Regions from separate parts of the Homo sapiens genome. Here region 2 is linked to region 1. Evidence: fine-mapped expression QTL. A gene starts in region 1. The other region holds a variant in brackets. All regions are shown on one strand. Distances are from middle to middle.

The links.
Region 2: its variant is fine-mapped to the expression of DMD in nasal epithelium (TOPMed, PIP above 0.99).

What each region holds. Positions count from the first base shown.
Region 1 is chrX:33,205,364-33,217,118 of GRCh38, forward strand. It overlaps DMD (dystrophin), which reads right to left and starts at 6,186. Exons shown (of 79, transcript NM_004006.3): 1 at 5,919-6,186. The coding sequence starts at 5,949.
Region 2 is chrX:32,889,629-32,901,383 of GRCh38, forward strand. All of the region lies in intron 2 of DMD (dystrophin), which reads right to left. Among named protein-coding and RNA genes, the nearest start is that of MIR548F5, 250 kb to the left of the region's middle. The variant A/T (reference allele first, on the strand shown) is at 5,143.

The DNA.
Region 1 (11,755 bases):
ATTCTGATTTTGTGATTTTTCTTTCTTATTTCTTTAATTTTTCCTCACACAGCTTCCAAGGCTAAAATCTGCACTTGTAACAGTGTACTGACTCCCTTGCCCTTTAAGTCAGCACTTAGCTCAGGCTAAGGTACTATTGCAACCGTAATCTGATAAAGGAAGAGACAAGTTGAGTGCAAATAAAGATGAGTGCCAGGAATGAGAAAAAAGCTACTGATGTTTATGCCCTTTTATAGTCCTGATTCCATGACAGTCTTAGCCAAAAGCAGAGTGGAAGAAGGGAGAACGCTTTAAAACAAAACAAAACAAAAGCCAAGAAGAGGGTAAAAACATTTAAAGGGTAAGCATTTTATTTGCCCATAATTGGAAATAATATGGGACACCGTAATGGTAATTGTGCTCAGCTAACACTGACCTTTTTTAAAAATCAAAATTTTCATGATAGTGAAGACAACACATTTAAAAGTTGACAAATTAGCAAGAGACTTCGTGATATATATGTGAATTCCTCATTGTTGATATGCCCATGTATGGTTTTCATATTTATTAAATATAAACAAAAAACATCATGATTCGAGCATCTGATTTTTTGAAGTTTCTTTAAAATTATCTTAATCCTCTCCAAAACCCATTAAGCCATCTACATTCTCATTTCATTACATGGATAAGCATTGGCTTTAATAATGCATTTTAATGTACCTCCTCTTCGTTGACACAACCACATTTTTCTACTAAAATAAATAACTAAACTAAAATGAATAATAAACAAAAATAAAGGCAAAGCTCTTCCTCAGATTCTTTTATTCAAATGGCAATTAGACCTACATATTATTCACCAGTCTTAGATATATTTCAGATTTCCAAATTGGCATGAGAAAATCAATTCATCAATTTGCTAGCATTTTTAATTTATGGACAATTATTTTCTTAAAATGGTATGTAATCAAAATACTGAGTTAAAAATTCTGAAAGAGTCATTTAAGAACAACAACAAACAACAACAGCAACAACATTTTATCAGCATGGCAAGGAAATGACAACTCCATTTCAATTAAAGGATCATTGTCCATTCTCCCCCAGTTCCCATTAGTGAGGAATGGGGTTCATAATGACAGAGTGAAAGTGAGGCATTGAGGGAGAAGGCAAAAGATCACAAAAGAAAGCAGGAATACATTGATTTCTAAACCAAATCCAGACTACTAAGAACATTGGTTTTCTCAGGGCTTACTATCATTACATATACTACGCAAAGTCACCTTCAGAGGTTGTAGGCCTCCAGAAAATTGCTCTGTGTGTTCCGTTGCCTACTGAAATTCCCAAGTATTTTGAACGAGTGATATCAGATTAAAATAAAGATCGAGCTCAGAGTTGAATAGAAATTATCCCTTAAAATGGCAGCCTAAACAGAAGATGTGAGCTATAAAAGAGGGAGTACTGATCTTTGTGTTTTTAATGGGAATGAGGTAGAGGTTGTATGGCCGTGAGATGAGGACTCTTTTTATTTTATTTTTTTTTAACTTTTAAGTTCAGGGCTACAAGTGCAGGTTTGTTACATAGGTAAACTTGTGCCATAGGGGTTTGCTGTACAGATTATTTCATCACCCAGGTATCAAGCCTAGTACCCATTAGTTGCTTTTCCTGATCCTCTTCCTCCTCCAACCCTCTACCCTCCGAAAGGCCCCAGGGTGTGTTGTTTCTCTCTATATGAGGACACTTTTAAGCATAAGACAGCAGAGCCATTTCCCTTCCTCATTCTCATTTGTCTGCTGCCTATCAGAATTGTGCTTAAGAAAATTTATATGCCCTTAAAACGCTGGAGCCAAATGTATTTTTTTGGTCTTTTTGTTGGGCCATATTCAAGGAAGTAATCTTGAATGGGGAAACAGAAAGGCTATGCCCTGGGTGTTAAAGTATTTCATAATCTCTAGAGGAGCCATCTGGTTTAAGAAGGCACATTGAATGCTATAATATGCTGTAATATATGAGGGAAACAGACTTTTTATACTATCAAGCCTTTCATGAAAAAATTTCATGAAAAAATAAACAAAATCATTTTAGCTTTTAATCTTGGAACTATATTTAGTATAGGAGTGATTCACAAATAGCAGAGTTACTCTCCCATTCGAAGGGGTTATCAGAATCTCTGGAAGACACATTCACTTTTAGTATTAAGTAGAGGGAGCTTGAAATTTTGCAAGGATTTTAGGGACAATTCTATAAGTGACATAAATAGAAAAAACCCTCCAAACTTGGTAAAATAATAAATTATCCCATGGTGTTGCCATTTTAACTTTGATATCTGTATTAAAATGAAACTTCAGAACTCCAAACATATGTCAATATTTTATAGCATGAAACCCCAAGGAAGTCTAACTAATAGATGTTTTACGTAGGGAAAAGGTGAAGACTACAAACTATTTATTTGCTTGGTTTGTTTGTTTTTTGAAGATCAGTATACTGCATTGAGCACACTCTACAAGGGGAAATATTTTCATGAAACCTGGTTGCATTTAATAAAAACGTTTATTTCCCACACTGCAGCCCATGACCTTCCCCAGAAAATATTCCAATACGAACCAACTGCCTTGATAACAGAACACAAACCTCCTAGGACTATAGCAGGACTTTGTGAGAAAGAAAACCATTGCCTCTCTCTGAATCCAATCAAAACCTGAATGTACTGTATAAAAATAAACCAAGGTCATCATTATTCCTTGTCATTGTGATTTGGCGTGCCTTCAAATTATATACCCTGTATATTTCAAATAACTGCACCGCCTCCATTAACTGAGTTTGACATCACTTTAATCAATGTATCTTTTCAGAATGAAAGGCAGAAATGTCAAATTCCTACCATTATAAATTCTTTTAACTCTCTAATCTGCATTAAATAAAAGGTTGTCTTTGAGAAATAATAAATGCTCTAAAGAAATATAACTAGCATCAATTTTATTTTAAAATGTAACTGGGAAAAGATTAAATGTCAACACATCTCTTCATACAGAGGTGATTTCCCAAGAAACTATTAAAGCCTTACTTACATGAGGGGCCCCTCCCAAGGCTGTATCCAATTTTCTATTATTTTTCTTAAAATAGCACCCCCAATTGTATAACCTCAGGCCCCATAAATCCTTTCTTCCTGGTTCGTTCTGTGTTGTCAGACAGGGAATGTACATTAGTCTCATTTGTCAATTCCTTAAAAAATGATGTGTGTTTAAAATAGAAAATTTAGAAAAATGAACAGAAAATTATCTTTAAAGAAAGGTTAATTTCTAATTAGACCCTCTTAGGAAACTTTATACCCTGTGATTTGAATGCATATAAATGTGCATATATATAAATATATATACTCATACCAAAATACTGTGTTTCTTGTATGTGTGATGAAATAAAGAGTTGATGAAAAAGTATGATAAATCATTTTTAATAAGTTAGGAAAATATTACAATAGAAGGTGGAAGGAGAAGGAAAGTTTGGGAAATGACTTTGTTTTACTCTTGAGATAAAATTTTGATGAAAGATAATAAAATAGAATTTTGAAAAACACCTGATGTTTCCAAGACAATGATTTTAATCTCTTTTATTAAACTACACAAGTGGTTAAAAACTTGACAATTTGTTTCATATGTAGCAAATGACATGGAGTACAGGGATTTCAAATGAATGCTATAGGAATAAAGAGGAAGCTGTATTAATATCTGTGCCCAAATGATGAATTTGCAATTCAGTACTGTCTAGCTGGAATAGTGTCAGCCAACACCTTTTTCCCCTTAAATAATGTAATTATGCATAGAACACTTTGTAGTCTTTTTTTAAAGTTTAGAGTAACATCTATATGACATACTCTATTGTATTTTTCATAATGTTATGTCATGTAAGATACACCAAAAGCTTTGTATTAACAGTATATCATCAATTTAGATCAGCAATCTCTTTTTCGTAGTTAAGATGTCTTTAAAAGATTCTGCAGATGAAATTCTAAAAGGTGATTTTATTAGACCTCAGATGACTTACATCATTTAAATATATTCAAATGAAATGTCTATTTGCAGTACACTATTTGAATAATTCTTTACAATGCATTATTTGAGTAATTCTAAAAGTGAACAATACAATATGTTTGACAATACAGTGATCTCTTTTAAAGGGTAACTGTTTTGGTTAAAAAACAACAAAACGTACTTTTGTAAGTTTATCAAACTACGGCAAATTTACAAACTGGATTCAAATGTCAAACATCCAAGTAGCAGTATGTTGTCAAACAGCAAAATTTAATGTATAATATAGCCCTGAGTATATCTCCGTTTTTTCTTACCAAACTCATTGTCATGTTGCATAGGCATTACTTGATGATTTTTTAAATGCAGCGTGAAAAAATCCTACAGGGCATGTCCCAAAAAGATTACCTTTCTTCGCATTCTAAGAATTGAAAGTTATTTGAATATCTATGACAAAGCAGAGTGTAGATTTACCTTGCTTAATTTCAGCAGAATTGCATATATTCTTTCAAAATTGCTCTATATACTTGTATATGATGTTAATTATGTAGAATATATATATATATAAAATCACTAGTGATTTTGATGGTATTTATGTTACATATATCAAAGAAATAAAAACAAAAAATAAAAATGTGTGTGTATATTGCAAACAACAGATATATGCCATGCATATATTTGTAATGATAGTAAATATAATAGTTTTTCAATCTAAAAGTAATAATGATGTCCACCAAAAGAAATTTATGAAGCAAGCCAACAATGTAAGTAAATATTGTATTATAAAGTCTGGTAGCTTTTAATGTGACTCAATACATGGACAATGTTAACTTATTTCCACAAAGTTTTCCCAGTGGCAAAACTTCTGCCTTTTTTTTTAGTAGTTGTGGAGCATTACTTATTTGGAGAGATTTATTTTTTCATTCTTAATTATAGGCATTGCCCTCATATCTATTTTAGAATAACTACACTCCACAAGTCAAAGATGGGTGGGGAAGAGATAAACTCCCATCTCTTCGGGACACACAGTCCTTATCATATATTATTTTTACTGTTGTGCCACAGTCCATTTTTAAATCCTTCATTAGTCATCATGACTTTCTTAAAAATAAACGAAATAGTTGTATTTCTATATGAAAGACAAACTAAAAAATTGAACTGAAAAGCTGGCTCATAATAGACATGAAACAACAAGGTGACTTTACTACTAAATATAATTAGGAGTTCCTCAAGTTTGTATGTCGTTTACCCAAGAAATCATCTGATCATTTGATAGCATAGATCACATCATTATTTGAAATAATTATCATGATATGCTACAGAAAAGAGCATTTGAAATAGTAAATGTGAGTAAGAAACATTAAAATTAAATCTTTATCAATACTTTTCACATCCTTCAATTATCCGTCCCAACTCATTTTATTCTTTATTTTATCCATGATGTGTCAGAGAAACTTTTTCTAACTTTTAGGCCTCCATGTAGTTCCTATACAGTAGTTAGTTCAATTGAGAATATATGTCAGGTCAGTAACCTTTATGTAACTGTTACTAAATACGGAAGTATCAACTAATCAAAATAATAACTCAGATATACAAACTATCTCACAGCAATCAAAATAAATCTGTTATAGTCAAATGACATTCTGCATATTCTATTACTGCAGTGGTTTGTTAATCAAGAAATCATGTGTTTAGTTCTATCGCAAAGAAAAACTTTTACACTCCATTTCTGTTGAAAAGTTTTCCCAATGAAAAATATATATTCCTGAATAAATACATATATATATGCAGTATATATAACATTTATGCTTCTTTGCAAACTACTGTGATAATTTAAAATCAATCTACCTAATTAGTGAGCTTGTCACAAACTAAACGTTATGCCACAGTAAAATATATTTTTAGTTACTTTGTACTTACAACAGTCCTCTACTTCTTCCCACCAAAGCATTTTGAAAAGTGTATATCAAGGCAGCGATAAAAAAAACCTGGTAAAAGTTCTTCAAACTTTATTGCTCCAGTAGGCTTAAAAACAATGAGAAACCAACAAACTTCAGCAGCTTTAAAAAAAGTAACACTTCAGTTTTTCCTATTCGTTTTTCTCCGAAGGTAATTGCCTCCCAGATCTGAGTCCTGTAGGGGGAAAGTGAGTGATCCCAACACTGAGTGAGTCAACACAGTAACTGATGCCAGGATTCTGTAGAGGCCCCCGGATATTTCAAATTCCAGGACCTGCGCACAAGCAAGTGACCCGCCTTCTCTCTCAAGTTGGTTTCCCATAATAGGACTGTCCATGGTCACTACATATAAGGTTGTGCTTCCAGCATGGCAAGCTCTGTGAATTCAAACAATGCTCAACTGTGTTCTGATTAATATCCAAACCAGAATAGCACAGTGGACATAGTACTTGCTTTTAAAGCCTTCTAAACACAAAAACTATTCAGTACAAAAGCATAACAATACTTTCTGTAACTTTCATGTGAATTTATTAACAGAGCAGAAAATCCGGATTCAAAATTGACTTTTAAATGCCTTTTTTATCCTCTCAACAACACCAAAAATTTCACTCTACCAAATAAAAAGGAATGCCCAGAATAATCCATGCATTTGTTATGTATCCACTGTCTACCAAAGTTATTTTTTCCCCTTGGGATTCAATCAAAAGTTATGTATTGATGATGCCAACAGTCTGAATAAGAGAAGCAGCAGCAGAATGCAGCAGCTGAATTCTGAAGGCAGAATGTGTGTGTGTATAGGTCTCATGGGACATGTTTTCCTGCTAAAATAAAGAATACTCTTATAATGCAGGAAAGAAATTTTTCTCAAATCCTAAATTTCAGTTGTGAATTATGCTAAAACTTCTTTACTAACAAATTATTCTTTCTTCCATTTCTCTGGTGCCAATTCTTAAAACACCATTTTTTTAGACATTGAGTTAATGATCATTTAATGGTTCTGAATAGAGGCTTGTTTTCTGTATTAAGTGAATACAGTTGTATTATGTCATTCAGCATGTAAATCATTCTTTGCCAATAGAAAGCTTCTTCATCTTGTTCCTTATTACTTTTATGCAACAGGCGAGCCCAAAATTGATAGAAAACATTGGAAACATTTTTTAAAGAAAGATATTCTTTTTATAGTTATAATAATCCCTACTAAAATTTTTGTTTGAGTGTTTTTATTGTACCATTTGTTAAAGTGACAGACTCATTTTTCTATGTCAAACATTCAACTGCTTGCGACTGCAATGAGTAATAGATAAAAATTAAAAAAATATTGAGTCAGACTGTGATGTTTACCTTAATAGTTAATTGTACATTTTGTGTTTTAGAATATTATTGTCATAACATTGCTATTTTCCCCAGCAAAAGGTGTATGAGATAAAACATAAGGCCTAATTTTAATTTAAAACATTCTTTTCCCTAGGTCACCTCCTTTCCTCTCAGTGTGGTTGTCTAAATATGCATATAAGCAAAATTTTCATAAAACAACATAGAAAAAATGAAAAAATTGTTTTGGGGCTGATTTGGCTCTAAGTCTGCATGTTAGCATCAGTGTCCCTCTATGCTGTGAGGTACAATATTGCCCAGAGTATAAGTGCCCTTTGTATCTTGCACTGTGAGTTTTCTACAAACATAAACCCTTGTTTAGGCCAAGGCGTGAATACAACTTGTCGGTCCCAAACCAACATCAATATCACGTGGGAACTTCTGAGAAATGCAAGTTGACACGAGACCTCAAAAGTCAGAAATTCTGGGGTTGGGACACAGCACTCTGTGTTTTACCGGTGATTCTAATGCATGGTCAACTTTGAGAAACCCTAAAGTGTATGTTTCTAAAAACAACCGTGGTTCTAAATGTAACAAAGATGTGTCCTGGGTAATGTCTAAAGCACCAAATCCTGATAGATCTGAATGCCCTGAGATACATTTAATTGCCATTCAGCCTTAGTTGATAATCAGAATTTATTTGGCACCTATAATGATTTCTGCATTGTGTGGAATGCATATACTTCCCTTAAGATTTTATAATCCAGGTGCAAATATATGCTTACAATAACTGGAAAAGTGAAAGGCACGTAAAATAAAATTTAGACCGAACAAATTGAACTCCAGTTCAGACTGTGTCACCACAGTACTTTCTTGTGTCCCTTAATCACTTATCTTTCTCCTTTAGTCCTCAGAATAACTACATCTTGTAGGTCTTATTAGCCCCATAATAAAGGAACTTGCTCAAATTTCCATTTTTAATAACTGTCACAGAATTTTTAAAAATTTATTTTAACTTGTTATTTTCAAATACTTATAGATTCACAGGAATTTGCGGGGATAGTATACAGAGATCCCATGTACCCTTCACCCAGTTTCTCCCAAAGATTAACTACAATAACTACAATTCAGTATCCTACAATAACTACAATTCAGTATCAAAACCAGGAAACTGACATTGATATGTATACATATTTCTATTTCATCACTGATTTGTGTAACCTCAACCTCCACAAATAAACACCTGTTTCATCACCACAGAGATTTGCCTCATGCTACCCCTTTACAGTCACAACAGTCACCCTCCCTAAATATCCCTAAAGCCTGGTACCAATCAATTTGTTCTCCATCACTGTAATTTTGTCATTTTAAGAATATTAGATAAATGCAATGATTCGGTATGTAACCTTTTGAGATTGGCTTTTTTTTTTTTTTTGGCATTCTGTACTTGAGATCCATTTAAGTTGTCATCAATAGCTTATTTCCTTTTATTGCTGAGTAGTAGTTCATGGCATGGATGTTCTATAGTTACTTTATTCACATACTGTGGGATATTTTCGTTGTTTCCAGGGTTTGGTCACTACAAATAAAGCTGCAAAACAATCATGTAGTTTTTCATTTTTCATTCCTCTAGATTCATGTCCCAGAGTGTGGTTATAATTTACCATATAAATTTTAGAATAAGTTTATCTACAAATAGATCTACAGATCTATCTACAGAATATCTTTCAGGTAGAATTTTGATAGGAATTGCATTAAAATTATGAATACATTTTGGAAGAATTGATGTTTTTACCGCATTGATTCCTCCAATTCATTAACATAGTACATATGTCCAATATTTAGGTTATCTTTAATTTATTTCATCATACTCGGCTTTTTTACACAGTGCTTTGTGTTGTGATTAGATATATTAATATTTCTAATATAATGGCACTACTGTCGGTTATGCATGTGATTGCACAAAAAAAGGAAAACAGCAGAGTTTCCAAAACCCGTTCTTTTCCTGTTTGTTTTTGCTTTTTAAGAAATTTTCATTTAAGAGATGGAGGCTTGCTCTGTCATCCAGGCTGGAGTGTAGCGACACAATCATACCTCGTTATAGTCTCAAACTCCTGGGCTCAAGTGATCCTCCTGCCTCAATCTTCTGAGTAGCTGGGTCTACAGGTGAATGCCACCATATTCAGCTAATTTAATATTTTTTTTAGAGACAGGGTCTTGTTATGTTGCGCAGGCTGGTCTTTAACTTCTGGCCTCAAGTAATCCTCCTGCCTCAGCCTCCCCAGGAGCTGGGATTATAGGCATGAGCCACCACACTCGGCCAGTTTGTAAAAAGAAGCACATTTAAAAATGTTTACGTTGTTAAAAAATGTTATATGCTTGTTGGCCGCTTGTATGTCTTCTTTCAAGAAGTGTCTGTTCAGGCCGGGTGTGTTAGCTCATGCCTGTAATTCTATTACTTTGAGAAGTTGAGGCAGGCAGATCGCTTTGAGCTCAGGAGTTCAAGACCAGCCAGGGCGACATGGTGAAACCCCATCTCTAAAAAAAATACAGCCGTGATGTCAGGCGCCTGTCATCACAGCCACTCAGGAGGCTGAGGCTGGAGAATCGCTTGAGCAGGGGAGGTGAAGTTTGCAGTGAGCCGAGACTGTGCCACTGCACTTCAGCCTGGACTAAGAGCAAGACCCTATCTCAAAAAAAAAAAAAAAAGTGTCTGTTCATATACTTTGCCCATTTTTAATGAATGTATTTGTATTTGGTTTGTTGATTTAAGTTTCTTATAGATTCTGGATACTAGGCCTTTGTCAGATGCATATTTTGTGAATATTTTCTCCCATTCTTCGTCTGTTTACTTTGTTGATGTTTCTTTTGCTTTGCAGAAGCTCTTTGGCTTAGTCAAGTTCCACTTGTCAATTTTTGTTTTTGTTGCAATGGCTTTTGGGGACTTAGTCATAAATTCTTTGCCAAGACCAATGTAAAAAAGGGTACTTCCTAGGTTTTCTTCTAGGATTTTTTACAGTATGAGGTCTTATATTTAAACCTTTAGTTCACCGTCAGTTGATTTTTGTATATAATGAAAAGTAGAGGTCCAATTTCAATCTTCTGCATGTGGCCAGCCAGTTTTCCCAGCACCATCTATTGAATAGGAAGTCCTTTCCCCATTGCTTATTTTTGTTGACTTAGTCAAAGATCAGATGGTTATAGGTGTGTCGCTTTGTTTCTGGGTTCACTATTCTGTTCCATTGGTCTATGGTCTGTTTTTGTACCAGTACCATGCTGTTTGGGTTACTGTAGGCTTATAGTATAGCTTGAAGTCAGGTAGTGTGATGCCTCTTGCTTTATTCTTTTAGCTTAAGATTGCTTTGGCTCTATGGGCTCTTTTGGTTCCATACAAATTTGGATTAGTCTTTTCTAATGAAAATGAAAAATGAAAATTGACGTTGGTAGTTTGATAAGATTAGCACTGAATCTGTAAATTGCTTTGGGCAGTATGGCCATTTTAACAATATTTATTCTTCCAATCCAAGAGCATGAAATGTTTTGCATTTATTTGTGTTGTCTCTGATTTCTTTCAGCAGTGTTTTGTAGTTCTCCTTGTATAGTTCTTTCACCTCCTTGGTTAGCTGCATGGTCATGAAAAAGAATGAAATCATGTACTTTGCAGCAAGATGAATGCAGCTGGAGGCCATTATCCTATGCAAATTAACACAGGAACAGAAAACCAAATACCGCATGTTCTCACTTATAAATGGGAGCAAAACACTGAGTACACAGTGGACATAAAGATGGGAACAAGAGATACTGGGGACTACTAGAGGGGGAATGGAGGGAAGCGGGTGTGAGCTGAAAAACTACCTACTGGGTACAATGCTCACTACCTGGGTGACTGGATCATCAGTACCCCAAACCTCCACATCACACAATATGCCCTTGTAACAAACTCCTGAACATGTACCCCCGATTCAAAATGAAAGTTGAAATTATTTTGTTAAAATTTTAATGAAATTACAATTGTTTACAGATGAATTAATTAGACATACATTTTTCAAAAATATAAAGCATAATTTTTATTACAGTGAACTCATACACATTTTTTTAAATTACTTTTTTTTGTCTACACTTAGATGATACATGTTGTAAAATGAAGACTGGCCCATGATTATATTCCAATATTAACCAGTCATCCTTGTGTTATTAAATAGATGGCATATTAATTAGAAAGAACTGAATATGGTAAACGTAAAGTGAACAAGGAGTTAATTCTTAAATAATTGGAAACCCTAAAGGCATTATTTTATATTACTTTGGAAGTGCAGGGTCATTTTCCCAACTTGTTTGATTATTTAATATAATTCCAAGCATTATGATTAATGCAGCTTCACAGGACAAATAAGTTGAAGAGAAACAGGCTTATTAGGTAATATACTTATATAAAATTCACAAATTTATTGATTAGGGAAAAAATCATTATGGATCATTTCTACTTCC
Region 2 (11,755 bases), 320 kb before region 1:
TGTAATCTCCCCCACCCTTAAGAAGGTTCTTTGTCATTCTCCCCACCCTTGAGAATGTACTTTGTGAGATCCACCCCCTGCTCGCAAAACATCGCTCCTAACTCCACCGCCTATCCCAAAACCTGTAAGAACTAATGATAATCCCACCACCCTTGGCTGACTCCTTTTTCAGACTCAGCCCACCTGCACCCAGGTGAAATAAACAGCCTTGTTGCTCACACAAAGCCTGTTTGGTGGTCTCTTCACTCGGAGGGGCGTGACAATCAGGTCCCCTCCAGAAATTTAAGACAAAACCCCAGAGAAAGGGGGGGCATCTCAGTCCTAAATTGGCTGAGATGAAATATGCAGGATCTACCGGAAAGTAGGCTTTATATATAAATTAAGTTCAGATTCAAGAAAAGGCAGTTATTGAGATTCACTGCCACTGCATGTAGATCCTTATGTGGGGATTTCTAAGAATCATTGTCCAGCACCTAAACTGCAAAGCAAACCGGTAATAAATCAGACAACAATTAAGAGCCAAGTCATCTTGAGACAAGAGCTCAGGACTCAGAGAAGCAGCCTGCAAATGTGAAATGGACATTCAGAAGTCAGTGAGTTTCTGAACTAGCAGTGCCCGGTTACGAAGCTGTTGAAGAGCCTTGTGGACTGCTTTATATGTTCTGGGTAGTTCCATAGGTCCTCGCAGAAAGAGAAAATAAACCTTTCGTTGAAATTAACCTTAGACCTAGATTCTTAAAGGACTCAAACTTTTCGCGGGGAAGGAAAGGCCAGTCTATTGACAGGAGCTGTAGATATTAAGGCCTGTGGGGGGTGGGGGAGGGGGACTCATTATCTGGGAAAAGCCACACCCTTAATCCATCATAAACAGTGATGCCTGGGGCACAGTTGAGACTACACCTTGGAGGAAGAATCTAGGTTTTTCCTATCCAACTCCAAAAGAAACACATTTCAATGGCAACTGCTGAAAAACAAGCAAACAAAAAGTACCAGCACCTTTTTGTTTCTTTGGTAAGAAGGCGAAACATCCCAGATTGTCTAAAAAAAAGAAATTCGGGAAATCAGAACGTTTTATCATGATCTGGGGTTATGTTGTCCAGTAAGATAGCCACTAGTTATATGTGGCTACTGAACATTTGAAATGGGACTAGCATAACTGAGGAAGCCAAATTTTCATTTTGCTTTATTTTTGCTTCAATTTTATTTATATTGAAAACAAACAGTTTTTAATATTCTTCCATTAACCATAACTTCATTGGTTTGGGAGAACAAGTTTACTTTAACCCATGAAAATATGGCAACTGAATTCAGATGTGCTGTAAATGTAAAATATCCTCCAACCTTAATGATTTAGTACATTCTTTTCACTAACGTAAAATGTCTCATTAAGTCTTTTTTGATTACATGTTGAAATATTTTAGCTAAATAAAACATTAATGTCACCTGTTTATTTTCACTTTTTAAAGTGGCTACTCAAAAAGTTTAAATTACATATATAGCTTATATTTCTTTTGGACAGCACTGGCCTGGAGTACAGTTCAAAAATAGGGCAAAAATTCAGAGTTACTTCTTCCACATCTGAGTTTTGCGAACATTTATTCCTGCTACATACACACCAGTCTGTGTATCTACACATAATGAAAAACAGACTTTTCTCAATCCCCTCATATACAGAGGGCAGGTGAGTGAGCCAGTGAGAGAAGACTGAGAGGTAAGTGGATCATATAAATTAAGATGGCCTAACAACATTAGAATCATTAGGATTTAATCCTATAACTTATGACAACAGTCCAAGATGCAAAGTGATTTTTAAAAGTGATCTAAATTAAATTTTCTAGTTTTCCTTTTCTTTCCCTTTAATAGGTTTCATGAAAATCAAGAATTATAAGGCGGGGAGGTAAGGCTGGAGAAGACAATCTAATAAAGCGATGTAGGACAAATGAGAAAAATCAGGCTTCCTTATTCTACTCCAACACTTTCCAACTGTCATGACCTTCATGGTCTGTCTGTACCTCAATTCTCTGATCAGTAAAATTTGGATGAAATATGCTGGACTCTGTTGAGACAAAATGAAAACATAAGGAGAGTCTATCATCTGTAAATCACTACATTATGTACCCATTAGTATTTTATTGTTAGCAAAGATTAATAGAAAACTGACAACTCCAAGGCTGGATGGCATGAAGCCCTACACCTAGTAGTTGCTGCCATAGTCTGATTTGAGGTTCCTCAAATCATTCTTCCCCAGCCTAATCATTTTTTCTCTTCAGACCTGGAATCCTGCCATCCTCTCGCGTCATAGTTTGGGGGTTACTGCCTGCATATGCCAATGAACAGTATAGCCACGTGACACAGAAATGAAGGCCACAGAACCATAATTCATCAGTTATTCAATGTGTTAGCTGACAACTTGGAAATCATAGAGCACTCAACTCCAAGTTACTTCCTGAAAAGCAGAGAAATGCTTCCTCAGTGAGGCCACAGAACTCACAGCTTTACATTTTACCTACAATTTGCACATGATCCACATGATCTGGCCTCGGCTTTCCCTCAACCCCTTACAACTGTTACAGTTTCATAGCCTTCTGTCAGTCACTAGACAAAACTCAGACACTTCCTTCCAGTACTGGCAACATTACTGCACATTCTTCTTTTAGGTTTTCAGCCCTGGCTACACATTAGCATCACCCGAGGAGCTTTTAAATCTGTACCATTGTGTGTTTCTGATGCCCCCCACGCCATGTTGTTTTGTTTGTTTTCGTTTTTTGTTTTTTGTTTCTTTGAGACAGAGTTCTACTCTTTTTGCCCAGGCTGGAGCGCAACGGTGCGATCTCGGCTCACTGCAACCTCTGCCTCCTGGGTTCAAGCGATTGTCATGCCTCGGCCTCCCAAATAGCTGGGATTACAGGCACCTGCCACCACACCCGGCTAATTTTTTTTTGTATTTGTAGTAGAGACGGGGTTTCACCATGTTGGCCAGGATGGTCTTGATCTCTTAGACCTCGTGATCCACCCGCCTCAGCCTCCCGAAGTGCTGGGATTACAGGCGTGAGCCACCCGGCCTCTAATGCCCCCTTTCTTTCATAACATTACACACCAAGTATTATTTGGCAAACTTCTCATCCCCTATACTGTATTACTTATTGACATTGTTTCCCAGCTCAGGCCTACACGCTTGGCACATTCTGTCTCTCTGGCCACAATGATCGTGTAAGCAAGGCTGAAAACCAACTTAAAGGAATGGGAAGAGTTACAAACTTAAGTCTCCCACACATGATGCAGGATGATGACTTTATCAGATATTTTCATGATTTTATGATATTTATCAGACATTTTCTCCTGGGAAGTTTATGTTAGAGTAAAAATCATGTATCATTAGGGAGTAGAGGTAATGCTAAAAGCAAGGACTGAGAGTAGTTAATTCATGAGAATGAATGATGGAATCCCATGACGTGATAGATCAGCTGCTACACTATGGTCTCAATAGTTCAATTATTCATAAAATTACACTGATCGTAGTTTTCTAATGTGACATTTTTGTTTTGATTATTCGGTTGGTCAGACAACTGAGTAACCAAATGGTTTCGCCTACTTATTTGGTTATTCAGTTGTTCAGTTTCTTGACCTTTTTACCCCATGCTTCCTTAACATAAGCTGAATTTATCTCTGTTCAATGTAACACAAAAGCCCGTATTTAGAGCCAGATTATACCAGTTTCCAGCTGTGTCCTCTTAAACATATTACTCATTCTCTCATGTCTTCCATTTCTTTCCTTAAAAAATGAGAATACCACCTATCTCCTATATATGTTTGCAAACATGTTTACAAGATATATGTGAATTACCTTGCACAGTTAGCATCTCTCAGGATGTGAAAGTGACCGTCTTCCTCCTCAGTAATTTACTCTTTGTCTTATCAAAGCCATTAAAACCCCTCAGAGGTGATTAAATTTGCTGTGATAAACAGTGGGGTTATTAAGCAAAGTAGTAAACTATGAACACACCTAAGTTTTTTCTTAAATATTGTAGTGGAGCTGGAAATTTTTTTTTTTAGGTATTTCTTCCATATCCACAAAAAAGCAGCAAGCCCACTGAAACTCATCTGTTTGTGCTACTAAATAATCCCCTACTTTTCCTACTGTAGGTTGATTTATTGGTCCCCACTTTCTCATTCCTACTTAATAGGATGGCATATCTAGCCTATGGTGGGAAATGTGATAGCCTTTGGTCAACGGGGTGTTAAGAAAACATGACAGGAGCAGAGCCTTGAGATGGGCTGGCATGTTTGGGCTTGCTATCTAGTGACAACCTATGAAAACATGCACTGGGTGGCCGGTGCCATTCCAGTGTGTGCCTCTGGACGTGACACATCAAAGAAATCCAAACCAAACCTGCCGCTGAAAGCCAAGCCTAGCAACTACCAGCCTGATGCAGAACCAAATCTAGATCAACTTAGGTCAGCCAAACCCCGCATGACCATGAGAATTAATGCTATTTAAAACCATTAAGTTGGAGGTAATGATTATTACTTGATATTATTGTTTTGAGAGCTGACCAATACATCTGCCCAAATAAACGCGTTTGTTCACATCATGATGTTGTACTGAACCCCTATAACCCTCAATAGCGAAGGCATCAGGTTCAAGAGACTGAGGAAGAAACCCATAGCCAGCAAACGAGGCATTGGGTTTTATTAGAGGTTTACATACAGGGGAGGGAATTCAGTAGTGGTGGGCTGGACAGGAGAAGTGCCTTACCTGTAGAAACGATCCAGTGGTGGCAGACTGGACAAGATAGCCTCGCAGCACAGTGGTAGTGATGGCGGCGGTGGGATGAGCGGGCAAACCAACGCTGCTTGCGGGCAGCATGCAGTTTATATAGCATTTTTACTTAACCCTCTGCCCTTAATGACGTTCACCTGGCAACCTTCATCCAACCCAAAACTCGGGGCCTCAATCCGCTGTATGTATGGCCCGTGTTCCACGGGATGCACTTGGGGCTCAGATGTTCCTCATAGACAAGGAAGGGCTCTCTTGCTGGGCTACTCCCAGATTCCGTAGCTCGGAAAACACATTCAGGTGTGTCTGCAGTACAGGGTCATTCTAAGGGTATGCGCACATTATTGCAATCAGGTGCATTTACC[A/T]TATACTTGATTACCTATCTTACTGGTTATGTTGTTGTTTTGTGTGTACGTGTGTGTATGCATGGGTGTTTTTACAGAGTCAGATGTCAACCGCAGGGACAATACAAGTGTCTTACTCATTTCAGCCTGCTGTAACAAGATACCATAGACTGGGCAGCTTAAACAACAGAAATTTATTTTCTCACAGTTCTGGAGGCTTTAAGTCCGAGGTCAGTGTTCCAGCGTGTTCAAGTTCTGGAGAGGGCTCTCCTCCTGATATGTAAACAACAACCTTCTCCTGTGTCCTCACATGGCAAAGCAAGAGCAAGCTCTCTGGTGTTTTCTTTACACGGGCCACCGGATCAGAGCCCCACCTGCATGTGCTTATCTTACCCTAATTAATTCCCAAAGGTTCCATCTCCAAATATCGTCCCATTGGGGGTTAGGGCTTCAGCATATGAATTTGGGGCAAACACGAATAGTCAGTCCATAACAACAAGTGAAGGACTACAGAATCTATTTTATACAGTAATATTTTCTTTTATGAGCTATATGAAAGTGACAAAGCAAGTGGTTTAGTATTGTAATACCATGACAAAGATTAAGAACTGAACTGAGCAAATACTTTATACTTCTGGTTCAGTTCATCATAACTGAATTACCCAAAAATATAAAAGGAGAGCTGTAGTTGTTCTAGAAAAATCTTCCTTCGTGTAGGAGTGGGTTTGCGGGTTACTGTGCTAATCCACACCTGGAGTTTTGGGCGTCAAGGTTGATAAGGGTCAAGGGTTTGGGTTTTGGCTCTGGCTTGTGGAAGATCGTTTTCTGAGAGCATTCTTGGGCACCAGCTGGTCAGACACTCCCATTCCAATGGGACATAGTTTTCAACAGAGAGGAATAATCCAGGTGTATATAAGGCAATACAAGAAACCTTGAGGCTTCCAGGCCTTAGCAAGAAGAATTGGAGTGGAAGTTTAAAAGCAGAACTGGAACATTTTCTAATTGAGGGTGGTAGAGAGAATTCTGATATTTATATATTCGGCTGAGGTTGAGAGCTTTCAAGGATGCTGAGCTGGCTGCTGGCTTGGAATGAACGTGTGTGTGTGTGTGTGTGTGTGTGTGTGTGTAGTGTAGTGTAAATAAGCAACATTGCTAGTCTTGTAATCTTATAATTGTTCATAAGAGAAAATACAGTCTAGAGGAAGAGATCATCTAGTTTACTGGGAACTAGTAATGCTTATCTTGCCGAGGTTTAAATGAATGATCACGGCTGTAATGACTTATAAGAAAAATTAAATCTAAGAGCACAGCCTCTGAGCAGAAACTGTATACAGAGGTTTATGTACACAGCTGTGCGATGAAAAGAATTAGATGTGCTGTGCCCTGATGCTTTTGCAATAAAGGGTTCAAAAATCTGTGGAGAACACCCTACTCCTTAGTACAACCCAGAGCAGTCTGCTGTAGCCTGCTTAATTGGTATGCTATGATCAAATCCCTCTTGATTACACCCCTAGGGTATAATAGGAGGCAGGTTTTACTTTAACGCCTTTCATCATACAGAAAGTAAACTGCTTTATGGATAAAAATAGCCATGTACAGACTCACTATTGACACCAGCCACCCCTGGTGACTTCAAGGCTCATCAGCAATGCACAACTGTTTTAAAATAAAGCAAAGAGTCACATGTAGAATTGGAATTACAGGAATAATGAGAAGTAAACAGAAAGAGGCCACGTTGCCTTGAGGGCTAACCTATAGATTAGAAAAAAATCGGGGCCCTAAAAGACACACTACTGATGGGGTCTAGGGATAGAGCTATTTTTAAAGCAGTGGTAACAAAACAATTGGTGTCACGTAACACTCCAGTAACTAAGATAATTCACTTGACTGCAAGACAAGCAAAATATAGGATGTTAAATGTGCAACTATGTCTCAAGGTTACCCAAGTTAAAATTTGGAGCAACTAAACATGTCTCATTTTACAATGACAAAATGAACACTTAGTTTTCACTGTGTTTAAGAAAAGTGTCTTTGCCACATTAAATGCATTATCAGGAGATACATTATTATCACAGCTGCAAGGAAAATATTTTTCAGATTCAAAGATTCAACAACACTGTGGTACGCAGAACTTGAATTGCTGTCAGATGAAAAGTTAAACGTCAGCAATTGAAACAACAAATATTCAGGACAAAGTGTTTATAGCCCTTTCTTTTGAGGGTTTTCACATTGAGGAAGTATGCTTTTTATCTTCTCCAGTGATACTTTAACATGGGCCTTCAAGCACCTGAATAACAGCAATTACAAAAATATATTTTTTTCATCAACGACTGGGCATTTTATGCGTTTTTTTTATTTTGCCTATTAAATATGCCCTTAAAATCGTGCTTGTTCCTCAGTCTACTTATTAGAAGTTCAAAACAAGGCTTTGGTTCAAATCCAGTTTCTGAGATAAATTTCTTAATTCATTGTAAAAAATATTAATGGTGACCAAAATTTTAATGTTTTTAGAAAACATCACAGGTAATCAGAACAAACAGGAATAAAAAGAACAAAGAGTAAAGGAAGGAGAAGGAAGGAAGAAGGAAAGGGGAAATATAAGGAGGAGTAGAGAATGAAGAGGTGAAGGGAAAAGCTGTGATTTTTATTTTCAGATAAAGCACAGGTAGAGAAAATCTATGACATTAGGAGAGTCTTTCATTTAAAAACCTCATAGTTTTAGGTAGGAGGGTTCTTATTGGTGGAATCTTTCATACTTGTTCAATCCAAATTATCCATTAATTGTTCTGTCTGATTTATTAGCTTTCATCAAATAAATATCATTTTCTATGCTTTAGCAACTTGAAATCATTTGCCAACTGTTGTTATATAATACAAGTCGAAAAAGTTGGTATGCCCAAAGGCTTATCTGGATTTTGTATTCATTTTTTCCATTTTGAAGTTCAAAACAAGTCATTTCTTTTTCTTTATTCTCTGCAATCAATACAAAATGTGTGTTCATACTATTAAGAAGAGCATGACTGTTAAGAAGCCTTAGTTCAATGGATTAGTAGACAACCATTTTTTTAATTAGTCTTCCCCCTCTGAACTTTTCTCCACTTTCCGCAGCAAATGGAAACGTAATGAGAATCTCATAGTATTCTGCCAAAATAAAGGGGATGTCAGGCAATAAAGCATATCCTTGCTAAATAGCATCACAAATCCCATATGTAGAATTATCATTTTATTTTTAAGAGTTTTTTCCACCAAAAGCCAAGAATAAAATTGCTTTGAAGGATAATTGTTAAATGGTTATGCTTTGGCTCTATATTTGAGCCTCCACGTAAGTCTTTAATTAATAATTTGTGCTATGGACCGTGTTCTGATGAGATGTTTTGCTAAGGAGATATGCTCCCTTCCCTTACTGCCACCCACAAGAGTAAATAAAAGCAAGACACTGGCGTTTTGGAAGTCAAACTGGGATTCTGAAGAAGTTCCTGGGCTCTGAGTATCATGCTACACAGTAGAGAGTCACTTCCTGCCTCTCTAATATCTAAAACAAAAGATTTGAACTGGTAGCCATTGATCTAATTCAGGCCTGAGATACATTTGGCTAGTTTGATACAGGACAGGTTAAGCCCCAAAATCAGGGCTTGGCCTGGGAGGATTCTTGGCTTTGCCTAGGAAAGAATTCAAGGGCGAGCCAGTGGCGTTAAACAGCTATGTTTTAGTGAACATTACTGCGCTTTGTGAAATAGGGACAACTCATAGGCAGTGCCTCCAAAGTTGGCAGGGTATGGGCTGCTGGCTACTGTATTTATATCCATTTATACCCACTTTCAATTACATGTAAATTAAGTGGCAGATTAATGCAAATTGAGAGACAGGTTATTTAGAACTTTCTAGGAAAGGGGTGGTAACTTCTGGGTTATTGCCATGTCCTTTGTAAACTGTCATGGTGCTGGTGGGAGTGGCTTCTGCTAATATGCAATGAGGGCTGCTGGGGATCACTTTTGTTGCCATCTGCTGGTTTCTGCTGTTTTTCTCACTTCCGTTGGTCGCTGCCTGCTGGTACCTGCCAGTTTCTTCACTTTATCCTCTGGGAATGGGAAATAAGTCCTGCCCAACTCCTACCTCAGGCTTGCACAGAATTTTTAATTGGAAAACCTTTTTCCAGTTACCCACCAAATATACATCACTGCCTACTATATATCAGGCACTGTTCCAAGTGCTTGGGATTCACCAGTAGACAACATGCACACATAAAAAAAAGTGCTCAACTTATGAGGCAAATATATAGTGCACTGGGATGTTTTACATACAACTCCAGATTCTTAAGTTCCTCTTGAAAAATAAAATATATGGCCAAAAATAGCTCTACATTCTGACATGGACACTGCTAGACTGAATTGATTAGCAGTTGCCCATTTTAGACTGGGCACAGGCGTGCCATTTGCCAGTATTCTTTCCAATTTACACAATGTCCGTATGCATTTAGATCTTTGCTTCACCTATTTCCATTCCCTTTCAGGTCCTTGCAGGTATTTTAATTGTGGACTCCATTCACTGTATTATTTTATTTTATTTCAGTTCAGTTTGTATCATTTTGAGTTCCTGTTTTTAATTTAGTATAATATCATAGAAAGTGTTTGTACTTAATTCTACGGCCGGGTGCGGTGGCTCACGCCTGCAATCACAGCACTTTGGGAGGCTGAGGCGGGCGGATCACGAGATCAAGAGATCGAGACCATCCTGACCAACATGGTGAAACCCCGTCGCTACTAAAAATACAAAAATTAGCTGGTCGTGGTGGCACGTGCCTGTAGTCCCAGCTACTCAGGAGGCTGAGGCAGAAGAATCACTTGAACCTGGGAGGCAGAGGTTGCAGTGAGCCGAGATCGCGTCACTGCACTCCAGCCTGGACAACAGAGCAAGACTCCGTCTCAAAAAAAAAAAAAAAAGAAAGAAAAAGAAAAAGAAAGAAAGAAAAAGTGTTTGTACTTAATTCTAATGCAGAATGTTATGGATTCTTATATTGGTTCTGGTATAAATAAGCTAAATAAATTTAAACATGTTTTTTAAACTCTGTGTGGTCCAAATATATTCTCAGTAAAGTAAGAGTTTGACTTATTTGTGGGTTTGAAATTGAGTTCAGTTGAAACTCACAATTCAGTTGAGCTGCTGTAATTTCAGTTTTATGGTTCCGTCTTCCTTATGCTATATATTTTTAAAAGAGGTTTTGTTGATAAAAAAAAGAAAGTTTGTGAACCACTGGGCTTTCTGATCTCTATGATCTCCTACAAATTTAAACTTATGTGATTTAACACTAATCAAAAGCAAATCGGTATTCCTATTTAACTTTTTATATACAAAGGTCTTATTTCCTTAAAATTCCCTAAGTTGGAATAATATCTTAAAAGCTGTTCTTCCATAGTGTCAATTAAGTGCATAATAAACTAAAAATATTTGCTGAAAATACATACACATCTGGTAAAATTGTGTTGGTATGAATAGGAATAATAAATACAAAAATGAAAATTGGGAAGAGAGAATAGTGGTGCATTTGGGAAGGGTGGCATGTGGAGGAGGGCTTCTAGAGTATTAGTCATATTCTAGTCAATTTTTCTTTAAGAGAAGGGCCCTCACTCTGTTTCCCAGGCTGAAGTTTAGTGGCACTATCATAGCTCTCAGTCTAACCTTGAATTTCTGGGCTCAAGCCATTCAACTGCCTCAGCCTCCTGAGTAGCTAGGACTATAGGTGCATGCCACTATGCCCAGATAATTTTTTAATTTTTTCATAGACTTAATGTCTTGATATGTTGGTTAGGCTGGACTCAAACTCCTGGACACAAGCAATCCTACCACCTCAGCCTCCCAAAACTCTGGGATTACAAGCACAAGCCACCACACCCAGCCCCCTATTTCTTAAGTGAAGTGATTATGAGGAATAGCTCAATTCATTATTGCTCTATATTCCTTACACATGTAAATCTTATATGTACATCTATAGCAAATGAAAAAAAAGGAATTTTCGTTGATATTTCCTTTAAATGAAGATCACATTGGAGGTCAAAATGTCACACCAAAAGGAAAGTAAAAAACTCAAAGTAAAGATATTTTGTTAAAATTATGAAGTGTTAAAATTGCAAATGACATCTCATTTGTAAATATTGTATTATTATTTATTAAGAATTACTCGAATAAGCCAAAATGATGAAAATGCTTGTTATATAGAGAAATCTAAAATGTAAGGCAGTAAGCAGCTACTCTTCCAATAACTCCAAAAGATGAAAATATGTTTGGTATACTAAAAAAAATCTAATCTGTAATGTAGTCAGTGGTATATTTTGAAAGAAAAGTAAAACTATAGTTTTGATTATTTATAAAAGAATGAATTATTTTATATTTAAAATAATTAAGTCAGAGTTAAATAGTAGTAACATGTAATTTTTAAAATTGATAGGAAGTGTATATTATACAAATGTGATAAACAGCATTTATACTGTGGAAAATTTGTATCAATGACAGAAGGTAATCTCCCTTCTTACTACAATTCTTTTTTAAAGGGAAAAGAATATAAAAGATGAACAAGTGTACAGTCTGAAAAGGTTAATTTTCTTCTTTAAAAATTTCAACACTTTGAAAGTACCTGCAT